2 separate regions of the Homo sapiens genome follow, and region 2 is linked to region 1. Evidence: fine-mapped expression QTL. Tissue or cell type: testis. Region 1 holds a variant in brackets; the other region holds the start of a gene. All regions are shown on one strand. Distances are between the middles of the regions.

The links. PIP is the estimated chance that this variant, and not a neighbour inherited with it, causes the effect.
Region 2: it holds the start of PDZD2, and the variant in region 1 is fine-mapped to the expression of PDZD2 in testis (GTEx, PIP above 0.99).

The regions. Positions count from the first base shown.
Region 1 is chr5:32,102,767-32,110,871 of GRCh38, forward strand. PDZD2 (PDZ domain containing 2) reads left to right here. Exons shown (of 25, transcript NM_178140.4): 25 at 5,203-8,105. The coding sequence ends at 5,369. It overlaps LOC105374711 (a long non-coding RNA gene), which reads right to left and starts at 5,425. Exons shown (of 4, transcript XR_007058716.1): 1 at 3,522-5,425; 2 at 3,358-3,414; 3 at 1-1,186. The variant C/T (reference allele first, on the strand shown) is at 4,509.
Region 2 is chr5:31,634,576-31,642,680 of GRCh38, forward strand. It overlaps PDZD2 (PDZ domain containing 2), which reads left to right and starts at 4,556. Exons shown (of 25, transcript NM_178140.4): 1 at 4,556-4,862. RefSeq lists a silencer at 4,510-4,859.

The sequences.
Region 1 (8,105 bases):
AAGGAGCAAGCAAATATGTAAAAAAAACAAAATGCAAGCTGGGTGTGGTAGCGCATGCCTGTAGTCTCAGCTCCTTGCACTGCTTGAGCCCCAGGAGTTCAATACCAGCCTCAACAGCAGAGCAAGACCCTGCTTCTTTAAAAGTAAAAACTAAATGCACATACACCCTCATTAGTGAAAATGGAGTTAAATGTATTTTTAAATTAATGAGTAAAAGTAAAAAATAGACTAAATCCATGTGAAGATAGATAGAATTTGTAAAAACAGAACAGAAGAAACCATTAAAAAATGCAGTATAGGGAAATAAAGAGATGACTACAAAAAGGTAATGAAAGAGTTCCAGAAGGAAAAAACAGAATGAGAGGAAATATTTGCAGAAATCATGACTAAGAATTTTCCAGAAGTGAAAAAATGACAGGACTATGCAGACTGAAAAACTCATCAAGGGGCAAAACAATCTGAATGTATTTATTTAAAACAAACAAACAAACAAAAAACAAGCCTTGTTAGGCAGAGTGGTGCACACCTGTGATCCCAGCTACTTAGGAGGCTGAGGCAGAAGGATCGCTTCAGCCCTGGACTTGGAGGCTGCAGTGAGCAGGACTGCACCATTGCACTCCAGCCTGGATGACAGAGTAGGACCCTGTCTCCAAAAAAAATAAAATTCAAACCTTGATATAATAAAGTTTCAGAATATAAAGAAGAAAATCTAGAAAGCCAAGAGAAAATTCTAGTTTGCTCACTGCATACAACAATCAGAGTGGCGGCATCAATGCCTGAAGCCAGCAACACCTTCAGAGGACTGAGGGAAAATGTCCATCACCTGAAAACCCAGCACCCAGCTAACCTGTCATTCAATAGGGTAGCTAAAATGGAGGTATTTTAAGACACTCCTGAGGGGAGCGGGAGTGGCCGCCTTCGTGGTTGGTCACAGGACACGTAGCCTCTGCAGTCCAAAGGGACACAACCCAAAAAAGCGTGTGAGCCTGCGAACCGAAGGACCAGGGCAGACGCTGACTAAAGCAGCACATCGGCTGGGGAAGCCAGGCTTCGGGACCCCACACTAGAAGAAGCCACAGGAGAGATGACATCCTTCAGATCTGCCTCCAGCAAAGCAAGAATATGACGTCCTGGACAACTTCTCAGCCTTTGTCTCTAGCATCTGGCCACAAATCTGTGAAAACTGCTATGGAAATGGATAGAGAAGAAGAAAATTGTCAGTCCCACAGACTAGCGCTTTAGATGCTCTCGTGTGCAAGCCTGTGGTTTTGTTCTTGGGGAAAGCCATTCAAGTATTTCTGAGTATGATACGGCAGATCCCACCTTTGGAAACTAGTGAGACTAAAGATGTCATTATCTGGCCGGGCATGGTGGCTCATGCTTGTAATCCCGGCACTTTGGGAGGCTAAGGCAGGCGAATCACTTGAGGTCAGGATTCACCTTATCTCGTATTTCATATTTACAAATTTCATGAGTACAGGTTTTCTGTTCATTTTGTTTTCCTGTGTCTTTAAGCTCAAGCATTAGAAAACAATATAGCAAGACTGATTTCTTTGAGTAAGGTTATTACAGAACAAGCATTTGAATAATAAAGAATTTTTTTTTTTTTAACAGGGTCTAGCTCTGTCACCCAGGCTGGAGTGCAGTGTCACAATCTCTGCTCACTGCAATCTCTGCCTCCCAGGTTCAAGTGAATCTGGTGTCTCAGCCTCCTAAGCAGCCCAAGGTGGGTGGACCACCTGAGGTCAGGAGTTAGAGACCAGCCTGGCCAACATGGTGAAACCCCGTCTCTACTAAAAATATGTTAGCTGGGCATTGTGGTGCATGCCTGTAATCCCAGCTACTCAGGAGGCTGAGGCAGGAGAGTCACTTGAACCCAGGAGGCGGAGGTTGCAGTGAGCCAGGACCACACCACTGCACTCCAGCCTGGGGTCAGAGAAGGCTCCATCTAAAAAAAAAAAAAAAAAAAAAAAAAAAAAACATATAAAATGTTCATTATATGGCAAAATTTATAAGCAAATTCAAAAGTAAGTGATTAGAAGATATTTACAATATATTTAATAAACAAAGGGTTGATATCCAGAATAGGCAGGGTACCGTGGCTCACACCTGTAATCCCAGCACTTTGGAGACCAAGGTGGGCAGATCACTTGAGCCCAGGAGTTCAAGACCGGTCTGGGCCACATGACGAGACTCCACCTCTACAAAAAATACAGAAATTACTCGGGTGTGGCGGCACGCACCTATAGTCCCAGCTACTCAGGAGCTGAGGTGGGAGAATCATTTGAGCCCAGGAGGTCGAGGCTGTGGTGAGCCATGGTTGTGCCACAGCACTCCAGCCTGGGTGACAGAGGGAGACCTTGTCTCAAAAAAAAACAATCAATCAATCAATCAATCAATCCAGAATATATGAAGAACTATATAATTCAGTAAGAAAAATACAAGAGAGAAAGTTTGGGTAAAGAAAGCAATAGCAAATGGACAGAAGTTAAAACCTAGGTGGCCAAGAAACACAGGAAGATGCTCAAACTTAAATGTATTGGATGAAAATTAGAAATATTATAAATCATTCTTTTAATCTATCAAGTTGGCCAAAAATAAAAAATCTCATACTATGATGTGTTGGCAAGGATGTGGAGAAAGGAAAACACATTTTTTTTCTCGTGCAAGTATCTACTGGTTAATCTTTAAGGAAAATTTTAGCAGTGCTTACGAAAATGGAAGCTATGAAACAATTTAAATTTCTATCTGTAGCAGAATAAAATATATTCATCTAAAGGAAAGCTAAATAGCAGTTGAAAAAATAAATTACACCTCTCTCTATATACTAACTGGGACCGGCTCAAAAACAGTGTTGAATGAAAAAAAGCCAAATGCAGATTGTGCACTGTGTGACACCAATTCATGGTAAGCATAAGGAACCTAAGAATGTGTTCAACAAAAGCTATGCAAGACCTTTTTGGGAAAAAGCATAAAAGCTTTCTAAAGGACAATTTTAAAAAATCTATGAGTAAATGGAGAGAGAGACATATCCTGCTCAAATCTGTTAAGATTCAGTTTGGCCTCATGTAATAGGAAATCCAAAATAGCAGTGGTTTAAACGAGAGAATTTATTTCTCTCTTGTGTAAAAAGTCCAAAAGCTGGCAAACCTCTGCTTTGTACAACACTGAATGTTTCCTAAAGGAGCAGTCCCCAAGCTTTTTGGCACCAGGGACTGGTTTTGTGGAAGACAATTTTTCCATGGTGAGGGTTTGGGTGGGGGATGGTTTCAGGATGATTCAGGTGCATTACATTTATTGTATACTTTATTTCTGTTATTACATTTTAATATATAATGAAATAATTATACAACTCACCATCACGTAGAATCTGTGGGAGCCCTGAGCTTGTTTTCTTGCAACCAGGCATCCCATCTGGGGGTGATGGGAGACAATGACAGATCATCAGGCATTAGATTCTCATAAGGAACATGCAACCTAGATCCCTCGCATATGCAGTTCACAATAGGGTTCACACTCACGTGAGAATCTAATGCTGCTGCTGATCTGACAGGAGGCAGAGCTCAGGTGGTAGTGTGAGTGACGGTGAGAGGCTGTGAACAGAGGAAGCTTTGCTCACTCACCCACTGCTCACCTGCTGTGCAGCCCTCCTGCCACCAGTCTGTGGCCCAAGGGTTGAGGACCCCTGTCCTAGAAGACTTTCCTCTACTTCATCTCATTCAGTCCTTCTAACAACCTAGTAAGATAACAAGACAGATATCATCATCACCATTTTGCAGATGAGAAAACTGGAGTTTGGAGAAATCTGTAACTTGCCTGAAGTCACAGATTTGAGACCAAACCCAGTCTGATTGCTCCTTCAGTGTGCGTCAGGCTGTTCTGGTTGCCTGGAACCTCCCATGTCCTGAAGCCCAGGTGAACACTCACAAAATTCTTTTGTTTCACATAACCTGAAGGCCTTCGGTTAATATGCTAGAATAGGACATTGGGTACTAAGTTAACACAAATATAATTGGTTCTTTGGTCCTTCCAAAAATGTATCTATCTCAAGAAAAGCAAGGACTAGGGACCAAATCATTTTCCTGGGGCCCACTACAGGGCTGATATTGGTGAGGTCTCTCTTCTAATGTAACTAACTGCCTCTATCATTTACCACAGAAAATGTTTTTGTCCTTGTGTGGGCTGGATTTCTTCCAAGCTGTATTTTTATCACATAATATTTATTTCAATAATTTCAATAACGACTTTCAGTAATTTAGGATGAAATCGATACATCTGCTCAGTCTTTTGAGGTCTAATCAAAATTTCTGAGAAAATTTTTTTCACACTTGGGACTTTTTCTTTCAATGCCATTTTTTTTCCATAAGATGCCTCCATAGCTGGTGTACCTTTAGAAGTATATGTGTGAGAACGTAAATGGAGGGTTTACACTTGCATTTTTTTCAAAGCTCATACAAAGCTAGACAAAGCTATAATGTGAACATGCTAAACTCTGTAAGTAAGTAGTC[C/T]CCATGGTCACTAATGAGCACATAATCACTGATTCTCAGAACTTGCATATATCAGCCAGAATCTGTTAACAATTAGAAGCTGACAGCCTGGGCAACATGGCAAGACCCCATCTCTACCAAAAATATAAAAAAAAAAGCTGTGCATGGTGGTGTATGCCTGTGGTAGCAGCTACTCTGAAGGCTGAGGTGAGAGGATCGCTTGAGCCCAGTGAGGCGGAGGCTGCAGCGAGCCAAAACTGTACCACTGCACTCCAGCCTGGGTGACAGTGTGAGGCCGTCTCAACAACAACAAAAAAAGTTGAACCTGCTTTTCTGTGTTTACTGGCTGTTTGGAGTTCAGCTGTTGATTTCCTTACCCCAACTTTATTTTGTGTTATTCTTGTTGACTTGTAGCTCTTTAGTCTGGATGTTAACCATTTGTTGATTAAATACATAGAGAGTATCTTCCCCTTGTCAGTTTATTTTTATCTTACAGATTATGTTTGGAGGGGCGGCAGGAGGGCTAGAGTTGCACTGTTTTCTGTAGACCAGTTTACTTTTATGGATATATGCTTTTTGTGTTCTAAGAAATATTTCTCTATTCAATAATATATTATTTAGATATTTTTATCACTTAAAAGTTTTTAGTTTACTTAGGATTTTTGAATACTATGAAACTGCCAAGCTATTAATTATTCTGTGTTTATTCTCGTAGGTGGTGCGGCTGAACAAGCTGGAATAATAGAAGCTGGAGATGAAATTCTTGCTATTAATGGGAAACCTCTGGTTGGGCTCATGCACTTTGATGCCTGGAATATTATGAAGTCTGTCCCAGAAGGACCTGTGCAGTTATTAATTAGAAAGCATAGGAATTCTTCATGAATTTTAACAAGAATCATTTTCTCAGTTCTCTTCTTTCTTTAGCAAATCAGAGTGACTTCTTTAAACCACAGGTTGTTGAAATGGCCAACACTGGTACAGACACGGACTATAAAAATCTCCAAGCTTGTGCTTACACATGAAGCCTGACTTAACTGTATGTGCAACAGCAATGAAATTAACTCCAGAAGCCTTCCACCTGCGTCACCCAGGCCGGGAGGGTTCCTTCGTTCCAGTGCCTGTCCCCTACCTTTATGTTATGTTTACTGATGGGGATACAAGATGTGACACACCCTTCTTTATTTGAAACAAACAAACATTTAGCTAGACCTTTGCTTCCTTCTTGCCAGCTCTCCCAACATACCCAATCCTGGTGATCAGGGAACTAAAAGTCTGAGGGGGACACAAATGTCACACCTAAGAGGACAATCAATCATTTTGTATGATTTTGTAAGTAAATGACAGAATGCTTTTAGGCACATTCAATGGAAGGAGGAGATGTAGGTCTGTATATGTTACCCTGAAAAGAGAATAAGACTTACTTAAAAAAATGAATTATGACCTGTTAGGCTGAGCTCAGGAATTGTCCAAAAAGGAAAAAGCAAAATAATTAATTGAGAGTATTTTTTAGTGAGTGTAATGTATAATGTACGTATGCAAAGTTCAACTCAATAGGTTATTGATCACCATGAAGTATTGATCATTTTCTATCTCAAAAGTGTAAGCCATAAGGCTGTTTTACAGAATAGCACTTCTGATAAGCTGTATTAAATAGCCATGAGCTTCACTGCTTAGAGGGAGCAGAAAGGTCAACATCTAAAAGCACCTTACAACTAGTTTTTGAACCTGTCTTGATAAGTGCTTGAATTCAAGACTGGTCAGTCCAAGAGCAGACAAAAATATCACAAGTCAGTCAGTCACTGGGTTTCCATTTCTGAATTTTATGCACTCCAACCATGAATTTAAACTAAATTTTTAGAAATCAAGTATCTTTCTAAGTGTCCTTGGATTTATAGACAATGTATGTACAATCCAAATAGAGGAGCTTAATGGAATCCTTTTAGGAGACTGGTTGGTTTTTTTCCCTCTTTCCCAACATGTTTAAGAAATGTAACATTCTAAGTATTGGATCTCTTTTCTTGACCTAGTATAATGACAACTGCAGTGACTTAAGTTTTTGCTGTTTTCGTTTTCCCGCTTTGCAATTTCCTCCTTTTGCCAAAAATGTTTTCCTACAGAAGACTGTCGTGACTCACGCTACTTGGGAAACTCACTCTGGCCACTCCTCCTCTGGTGGCATGAGCTGCTTCCCAGTAGCTATTCCGATTGGATATTCCGTTCGTCGTCACATAGCTGGCTTTTCTCTCCTCATGATGTACCTTATTTTCTTAGGTAAATAATTCCAAACTCTCATCGGGTCATAAAGAGGAGGAGAAACAGGGTGAGTCAAGGTAAAGGAGCAGAAATGTAGTTACAAGCCAGGTCGTCTTCAGTGGCACAAACCAACCCGTTGAGCCCTGACAACATGAGTGGAGAGTGCATTTGCCATACCTGTGTGCATGACACTAAGATTTTATGTTGGAGATACTTCTTTAAATAACCTACAGCTTGGGTCTATGGCTGTGACCCCCAGATTCATGGAGGGGCTTTAGCCATCAGCTTTGTACATCATCATTTTTCTGAATGACCAATCCCACTAAACATCTTTGAAGTCGGCCTAGAGAGGTCCTTCAGATGAGAGAGAAATAGCTGGCTTGTCTGAGTCCAGATTTCTCATCAACTGGCAATACAAAGGAAAATATGGTACAGGAGTTAGTTAGAAAGGTCTTATTGATTTTACTTCTACTTTTCACTACAGTTACAGGTAGAATACTGTAGGAAGTCAGTGCAAGGTGCATGCTTGATTGATAGATATTGATTGATTGTTTTTCAGTCTCTGGGGTCAGTTTTGTGGTTTCTGCTTTCTTGCCTAAATCAAAGACTATTTCAAGTCAACAACACTGAAAACTGCTTTTCGCCTCCACTCTTACAGCTGTGCCTAATAATAATTAATTAATAAACGCACAGCCCTATGTGAACAGACAGGAATTTCTTGTGCAATGTGGAGCAAATGGAATGGTCTCCTTCCGCAAGTCTTTTTAATCCTCATATCTGGAGTACAAGGGTAGACCTCTGGCTTACCACATACACTATGCTAAAGTCATCAGCCACTGCTACTACATCTTGCCAGAAGGTTTCCCTCGCCAACAAACAGTTGAAATTTAAGGGAAGAAGCAAAAGCTAAACTGTCTTTGACCCTAAGATAGATAGAAAGCTATTTATTTGTCTTCAGTGTTCAAGGCATGACTAGTATTTCTAATTAGCCTAATAAATTCCCACACTTTCTGAAGTGAACACTAATGGTATTGTCCTACTAAAACTGTCATTGTTTCTTTTTTTTTAACTGGTCAGTCATTCACAATAAGCTATGAGGGTAAATAAATATGTGTTATAACAAGTAAACCGTAGTTGCAAGAATATACCATGAAGATTAAAGTAGGCTGGGTTTCATTTCCATCTTCCCACACATCTCATTGAATTTGATGGTTGACTTAATTGGCACCATAACTTTGTATGATATTATACATTAACCTTTATTTATGTAAAGTAAAATGCCTTATATATTAAAGAGTAAGTGCAATAATATGAAATAGCCTGTACATTTTAAAAATGTTGTCACCAAGTTATATAAATCCACAT
Region 2 (8,105 bases), 470 kb before region 1:
GTTGGCCAGGCTGGTCTTGAACTCCTGACCTCAGGTGATCCACTCAGCTCGGCCTCTCAAAGTGCTGGGATTACAGGCGTGAGCCACCACGCCAGGCCTGTCTTGCTGGTGTCTTAATGTGTGTTAAGCAAGTAAACTCAAAGGTAAATCAAATCCCACCACAGTCCAAAAGAATCTACTTGGATAAACACTACACTCTACCCTATTGCAAAATGATTGAATCATCTATATAAATTGTGAAAGTCATACGTGGTCTGTAGTTACTAGTTTGTAATTCAGTTTTTTCTGCCAAAAATTGTATAAAAAAATTACCGTGGCAACCAATGCTTCAATAGTACAAATGGAAGGCTGAGAGACAAAGATATAAAATAATGGGTTGGCTTGTAAGGGGAAGCCCAGGAGAAAATTACAAATTCTTCACGTGCAGTATTATTAGACCACACTGGAAACAATAAAACACATTTGCATAAAATCCAACGTCACGCTCATGGATACAGTGAAACTCATTTTCAATGTACGTGGATGAAAAGTGCTTACTTAAACCTTTCCCCTAAATATATATTTTAAGACAGTATGGGCTGGGTGCAGTGGCTCACGCCTGTAATCCCAGCACTTTGGGAGGCCGAGGCAGGCGGATCACCTGAGGTCAGGAGTTTGAGACCAGCCTGGCCAACATGGTGGAACCCTGTCTCTACTAAAAATACAAAAATTAGCTGGGGGTGGTGGTGGGCACCTGTAATCCCAAGTACTCAGGAGGCTGAGGCAGGAGAATCACTTGAACCCAGGAGGCAGAGGTTGCAGGGAGCCAAGATCGCGCCATTGCACTCCAGCCTGGGCAAAAAGAGCGACACTTCATCTCAAAAAAAAAAAAAAAGAAAGAAAGAAAGAAAAAGAAAAAAACCAGTATGCATCAAATGCAGGTCCTTTTTTGTGTTTTGGCTAAATAAAATATTTCATCTGAGACGGGATAAATATTACAACATTTTTATCAATGTTTAAAATAAAGTCTTATCTCTACAGTACTATGACCAAGTACTGGAATGTGACCTTGGGCACCCTCTCAGCTGTCATGTCACTCTACTTCAGTGTTTCTCCAAGTTATCCTGTGTGGGCCACCCAAATTACAATCACTGGGGTTCTGGTTAAGGGGCATCCAGGGGCTCCCCAAAGACCAAGTATATAGTGATCTCAGGGGGTGAGTCTGGAGTTTTTTAAATTTTCAAACTTCTGGGAATCCTTAAGTGTAGTCCAGACTGAGATCCACTGACTTAATGTTTTACTACCATCGTCACTCATTTGTTCTTTTTCTTTGAGACGGAGTCTTGCTCTGACTCCCAGAGAGGAGTACAGTGGCGTGATCTTGGCTTACTGCAAACTTCACCTCCCAGGCTCAAGCAATTCTCCTGCCTCAGCCTCCCCAGTAGCTGGGATTACAGGCGCCCGCTATCATGCCCAGCTAACTTTTGCATTTTTAGCAGAAGCTGGGTTTCACCCTGTTGGCCAGGCTGGTCTCGAACTCCTGACCTCAAGTGATCCGCCCCTCTCGGCCTTCCAAAGTGCTGGGATTACAGGCATGAGCCAGGGCACTTGGCCTCATTTGTTCTTTTTAAGCCCCTTTCTTGGCCAGGAGATGGCTCGTTCTAGCGTGAGGTCATGAATGGAAGAGTTAGTGGCCAGGAATTTGTGGAAGAAAGAAAAAAGGGTAATTCGCTAGGTAAACAGGAAGCTAGAATCTGTTTTGGAGATAAAATGAACCCACAGAGGCTGGGAGGAGAAAGGGAATTGAGCCAGTTGTTGACTAAGGCTACTTCTCCTCCCTTGAAATTTACTTGGAAGAGCAGCTGAGGCGGAAAGATGGAAAGCAGTCTTTTCAAGAGTTGGTAAGCAAACCTCCAGTTTTAGTTTCAGCTGCCTGGTCTGTAGATTTTTCTTCATAGAGGGAGAAAGCTCAGAAGTAAACCACATGGCACTGCAATCCATGAGAATCTACTTGGACTCACCTAAACCACGCTACATTCTGTCACTGATATAGCTTGGGATCACACATTTTTTCTTTGTTTATCATTTTAATCTTCCTTTGCTCTGAAGTCTTAGATATTCTATATACAGCCTCCTCCTCCTCCACATCACATATATTATGAGCACTAAATTAAAATGGCAACTTTGATAGAAATACTAATCTGTGACTAAATGTTTAACAAGGGGGCAAAAAGGATTTACATTTTGATCTTCAAACATTGGAAAATAAATGCCCTCAGTTGTCAGCTTTCCAAATTGACAAGACTGCAAGGGCAAAACAAAATTTCCATGCATTTGATTGACCTCTGTGAATTGAGCTATTATTAGCAGATAAGAACTTGCCAAAAATATCTGGAAAATATCAGCTGAAAAGTGATTGAAACGAAGTATTTAAAGCAGGTCAGCAGGGCCATGTCTGAAGGAGACAGATTATAAAATACATCTGTATATATTGTATTTATACATAATATATGCCACATATAACATACATGTATATACCTAACAATTCATTTTAATTCAGCAAATATTTATTGAGTGGCTATTGGGTCGGACACCATGCCACCCTAGGCTTTGGGAACACAAACAATAAGCTTTAAGTTCTCTTACCTCCAAGAACTCACAAGCTAGAAATATGTGAGACAAAACGCCATAATTCCTACAACATAATACACCTGACAAGGGTTAGATGAGCAATTTGCATAAAGTGCTACCATTGCAGCAATTAACAAGGCAGAGGAAACGTGATGTTTGTTCTGATGATCAGAGAAGCCTTTCCAGTAGAGATGACATTTACCTCCTTGGGATTTCAGCAGACACAGGAGAGTGAGAATGTCACTCTGGCAGAGGAAACAGAATTTACAGATTAGGAGTACATGGCTGGAATGAAAGAGTTGGGGATGGAGTGGATAAGAAATAGCAGTGACTACAGTTTGAGTGATACATTTATTTGCATATTCATTGATTCAGCAAACTTTTCATTGGTGCTGAGGGAGGTAGGCCCAAGGTATGTGCTGGGTACAGAGGCTGAGAAAACACGGGACAGAGTGGTGGAAGATGGGCCTGGGATTGTGGAAAAAACAGAAAGCACCAGCCCTGTTTGATCCTTCTAGAAGGATTTTTTTGTAGTGTCCCAATGATACCTTTCATTGATAATGGTTACCATTTCATTGAGCACCTCCTAAGTGCTGTGCTGAATAGCTGTGTTACTGCTAGTTCCAGCAATCCTGCATGGTAGGTGTTTTCTCTATTTACACATAGGAAGAGAAGCTCTGAGTGCCTGAGTGCCCAGCTTGTCATATACGATGCTTGGATTTGTGCAAGCATTGATCTCAATGGCCTGGTAATTATAAAAGCTGAAGAACAGCTGAAATCAAGAACTTCTCCACCCCAGCCCCTGAGGACAATACCACCTCCAAATGCCTTGGGCCCACTCTGGTCTCTGGTGTGGTGGGACAGCGCTGTCCGGTCTGCGCAGGTGATTTATGTCTGCCTGCTTTTCGGAGAGGCCAGAGTTTATTGCCTTGCTGGGCAGAACTGCAGCTGGGGCCTGCCCTGTCCCATCCCCATCCCCCCGAAAGCAAAGATTTCCAATTACTGTTCTGTAGAAAATGTCAAAAGCATTATTCAACTATTCATTATCCCAGGTTTTGCAATTTTTCATATGTTTTTACTCTTATCTGCCAGCACTTGAAAAAGACCAGCTTTTTCCTCTTAAGAGAGCTTAATTTGCAGAGCTGTGCAGTCTTCCTATTATGTTCTTATCATCCTCTCCCTTTGGTAGGCAGAATGACAAGGATGACAAAAAAAGAACCAAAAATATTTGAAGGCCTTCCTGAAAATCCACCGGAATGAAGGATCCCAAAAGCCTGAGGCTCGGTTCCTCGAGTGACCTGGACGGGAGCCAAGGGCGGCTGGCATTAGCTCTCACAGTCCACTCGGCAGGAGCTCGTGGCTAGTGCTCATGGGACCAAAACCACCACCCCAGGGCCATGGGATTCCCCCCCAGGGGCTTAACTGGGGGATTAAGCAGCTCTGAGGTGCCAAGAGGTCCCCTCTCCCCGAAATCCTCGTACCAGTGCTAAATTACCTTTGGTATCCCAAGGACCAGAGGCTAAGGGTAGCTTGGGGTGAGTGGTTAGCTCTTCCCCCATCTCCTGTGGCCCCTCCGCCCCATTCTTTGATAAGGTAACTGACATTTTTCTCTTTGCTGTGTAAAGTGCTATGCAGAGGCAACTTCACGTCCCCTAGCTCGCTCTGTTCCACCTAGATGGCGCCCTAAGCCCCGCCTGTATGGAGATTCGGAGCAGCCATCTCCCTGGATGCCTTCCTCCCACGATCCCCAGGTTTCTGAAGCGGGCGCACCAGGACTCCTGGCTCACCCAGAGAGACGCCTTGCCCGCGGCGGGGCTCGCTCGGGGAAATCCCCGCCCACCTTGTTATTCCTGCAGGGGAATCCCCGCCCCCCGTCCCTGTCACTCGGGGAAGGGAGTTCCCGCCCCTCGAATCAACCAGGGGGAGGGAATCCCCGCCCATCCTGGAGGCTCGGCGGATCCCCTGCGCAGCGAGGCGAGGAGCGGACCCCAGCGCCGGTGCGTGCCGGCCCCGGGCAGCGGGACGCGGCGGGGCGGCGGCTGCAGGCAGCCGAGGAGCCGCAGGCCGAACCCAAGGCACCGGGATTGCGCCTCCCGCGGCTGCCGGCGAACCGCGGCTCTGCAGCTCGGGGCAGGCGCGGCGGCGGCACCGGTGGTGGCCGCGGTGGCGGCAGCTGCGCGGGGACCCGCCGGGCGGCGCCTGGGTCTGGACGCGCGAGGAAGCCGCGGGAGCCTCGGCCAAGCCGCGAGCAGGTGAAGCGACCGTCCCGCTGCAGCCGGGACGCGCGGCTCCGGGTGGGCAGGGGATGGGGGAGGCCCGGCACCCCCGAGACCGTGTGTGCCCAGGAAAGTTTAGCTACAAATCCGGGTGCGGGAATCCCAGCCCTGGCAGGGCGGGGAGTGAGGACGCCGAACCGGGGTCCCACGTTGGGCGGCGCAAACTCCTCTAGCATCCGGCCGGGGACGGGGAGGGCGCAGCCCAGGGGAGGGGGCTAGACAGAGCGGGACCGAGACAGCGGGACAACCGGAGACGCACTGCCGGGGGTACTCAAGACAGGGCCGGGACCTCCTGCTCGGGCGCGCATCCCGGGTCCCCATCCCTGGGCCGTCTTCTGGTCCCTTCCTCCGACAGGAGTGGAGGTACTCAGGTACTCCGGCCTCAGGTAATGTCTTGGGGACCATCCTCCCTCGGGCTTGTTTCATCTCTCAACCCCCGCCTCTTTGCCCAGATGAGACGTTAGACGCGGGGCGAGGGAATGCAGGGGGCGCGCAAAGATCAAGGGCATCTTAGGGCCGGTTATTGGCGTCTGCCGGGGAGATGGGGAACATAGTGATAGGGAAATCCTGCTCTCTCTCTGAAGTCGAGTTTCTCCTAAAATCTGGTTTCTCCCTCCCTCTGTTCCTCTCTCCCTCCCTCGGGTTTGCGTTTGTGTTTTAAGTCTTTGAGCTGCCTGTGGTCCCCGCTATTTGGAAAATCCATTAAAGCGCAAGGCTGAATTCAGCAGCAGGAGGGTCCAGGACCCCTGGCAGGAGTTTGCCAGAAGCTGTCCTCGGCAGCCCAAATCTATGCAGAGACCTTGATAAGGGACACTGGAGTGGGAAGAGGACAAGGTCTGGCATGGGCTGGTCGCAGAGACTGGAATGGCAGGCACGAGGGCATTCCAGAGCTCCAGACCTGCCCTGGGACTGGCCGTTGGGCAGTGTTGGGGGATGGAGCTGAGTCTGAGTCTGTCCCCTGCAGCTGGCCTAACCTCTTGCCTCCACCAAAGGTAGGGTAGGTGGATATGTTTGCCTTGACAAATCGCAATGAAACTACTGGAAGTGGTTGCTGAGTGGCTGCAGTAAGTGATGCCCTGATCTGTCCTTGCAGAGAGACCCCCTGGACCTTCAGGGCCTGTTCTCCAGTGGGGTCTCTGAACACTGGAGGGCTTTAGGGGCCTGGCATCTCTACTGGGCCAGCTTTTGTGGGTTGTGACTTCTGGGTGGTGGCCAGATAGGTACAGGTTGGCAGGTGTGAAGTGGGAGTGCTGCTTGTGGGGGCAGAAGAGAATGTCTCAGAACACACCCCTGGCTGTAGGTGGTGGTTCTGGCTTCATGAATTCCTTCTTCCATTAGGATGGGCCCAGAGCTTCTGCTCCTATAATAACCACCTAGTTGTGTGAGTGAGTGTGTGTGTTGCGGGGGTTAGGTGTAGGAGTAGGGGGGTGGCAGGTGCTAGGAGAGGAAAAATCAGAACCATGTAAAGTATATAAATGTACCTACCTTGACATAGTTAATATGCTCCTGGAAAAATATTGAATTATACTTTAAATCTATCGCTGAAATTGATTTTGCATGTACTTTATGGCAGTTTACTATTTAAGGAAACTTATGATAATTTCTCTGTTCATTTCAATCATTTTATTTTTGGAATACCTGTGGTTTGCTGTGCTGGAGGCTGAGGAGGCTTCGAGGTTCCAGGATATGCTTAGATGAAAGATGCTCCCTCGCTGCTGTCAGTTTGTCAGTTTCTGTCCAGCAGGAGAAGGGAGAGAAGCCTGCTAAGCACTATGGTGCAGACCAGTGCACATGCTGCATGTAGTAGACGCCATGTGTTTATTGGATGAAGGAGTGAAGAGATAATTAAGTGAGTAAAGTACCTGAAGAGTGGTCCAAATAAAACATTTTGGGAGTATGGAGGAAAAAGAAGTCACTTTTGCCAGAGAGGATCTGAAAGGCTTTGTGGAGGAGCTCTTAGGTAGAAGTCGAGAGGTTGATCCTGAGTTAGGACTCAGTGCTAAGGACTCAGAGGAACTAAGGACTCAGAGGAACTAAGGACTCAGAGGAACTTAGTTCTCCAGATAGTAGGGAGATGTGTGAGATATTTTTTTTTTTTGAGACTGGGTCTCATTGTTGCCCAGACTCAAGCAATCCTCCCACCTCAGCCTCCTGAGTAACTGGGATCACAGGTGTGTGTTACCACAACCAGATAATTTTTGTGTTTTTTGTGGAGATGGGTTTCACCATGTTGCTTATGCTGGTCTCGAACTCCTGGGCTCAAGTGATCCTGGTGTCTTGGTCTCCCAACGTGCTGGAATTAGAGGCATGAGTCACTGCGCCCAACCTGGCCCCTCGTTCTGCTCCTACACAACCCTTTAGCACACTCACCATGCTGCCCTGGGTGTGTTTCTTTAGGGCCTTATTTTTTTCATACCCAGATAAGGCCTGGAACAGTTGCTAATCAACTTCCTCAGGTTAGACAGGAAAAGAGGCAGAGGGAACACCCCAGACCCCACTACCCCCGGCTGATCATACTGTAGGGTGTTGTGGAAACCCTCTCCCAGAGGCTCCAGGCCTGGTGAGCTGAACAAGATAACACAGAGCTGTGGATACCCCCTTGCCTTTGATCATGTGGGCCTAAGTGACTCGGACCATGGTGGTGGGGGCATCTCTGTTGGAAGGTCTCTCCTACTGCACCATCCACAAGGGGACAAATTCCAAAGATGAACCCACAAAAGGTCAGGAGCAAATCCAAAGAGAGGCTGAATCTCTTTAAGAAGACAGACTTAGAGACTCAAGTTTTCAGCTTCTTTCTTCTGCCCTCAGACACATCCCCGCAGCACCAGGGAGGATGCTGAGGTCAGAGTTGAGTTTCAAGGACAGGAAGAGCTATGCAGACAAGCCCATGAGAGAGGTTAGCAGACAAGTGGAGAGGCAGGGATGTCTCAGAGACGCCCATCCCCAGAAGGATGATAGGAAAAGGCCACTGATAGAACAGTGTCTGCAAGGGGTGTTCATGAAGCCAGGCTGCAAGGGAAGAAGGAGACAATGATTGCCAAGACAGTGAAACTGCAGGTATAGACACTGGATCCAGAAGTGTGCTGTTTGAAAATAATCCACAGTATTTTGAGGAGGTTGTAGCATTGAAGGAGGGTTTATTCATGAGAGTCCCTCCATTCTCCCTCCCAGGCATGTTTGGTAAACAAAAGAGATGTGGGAGAGAGTAGAGAAGCTAGA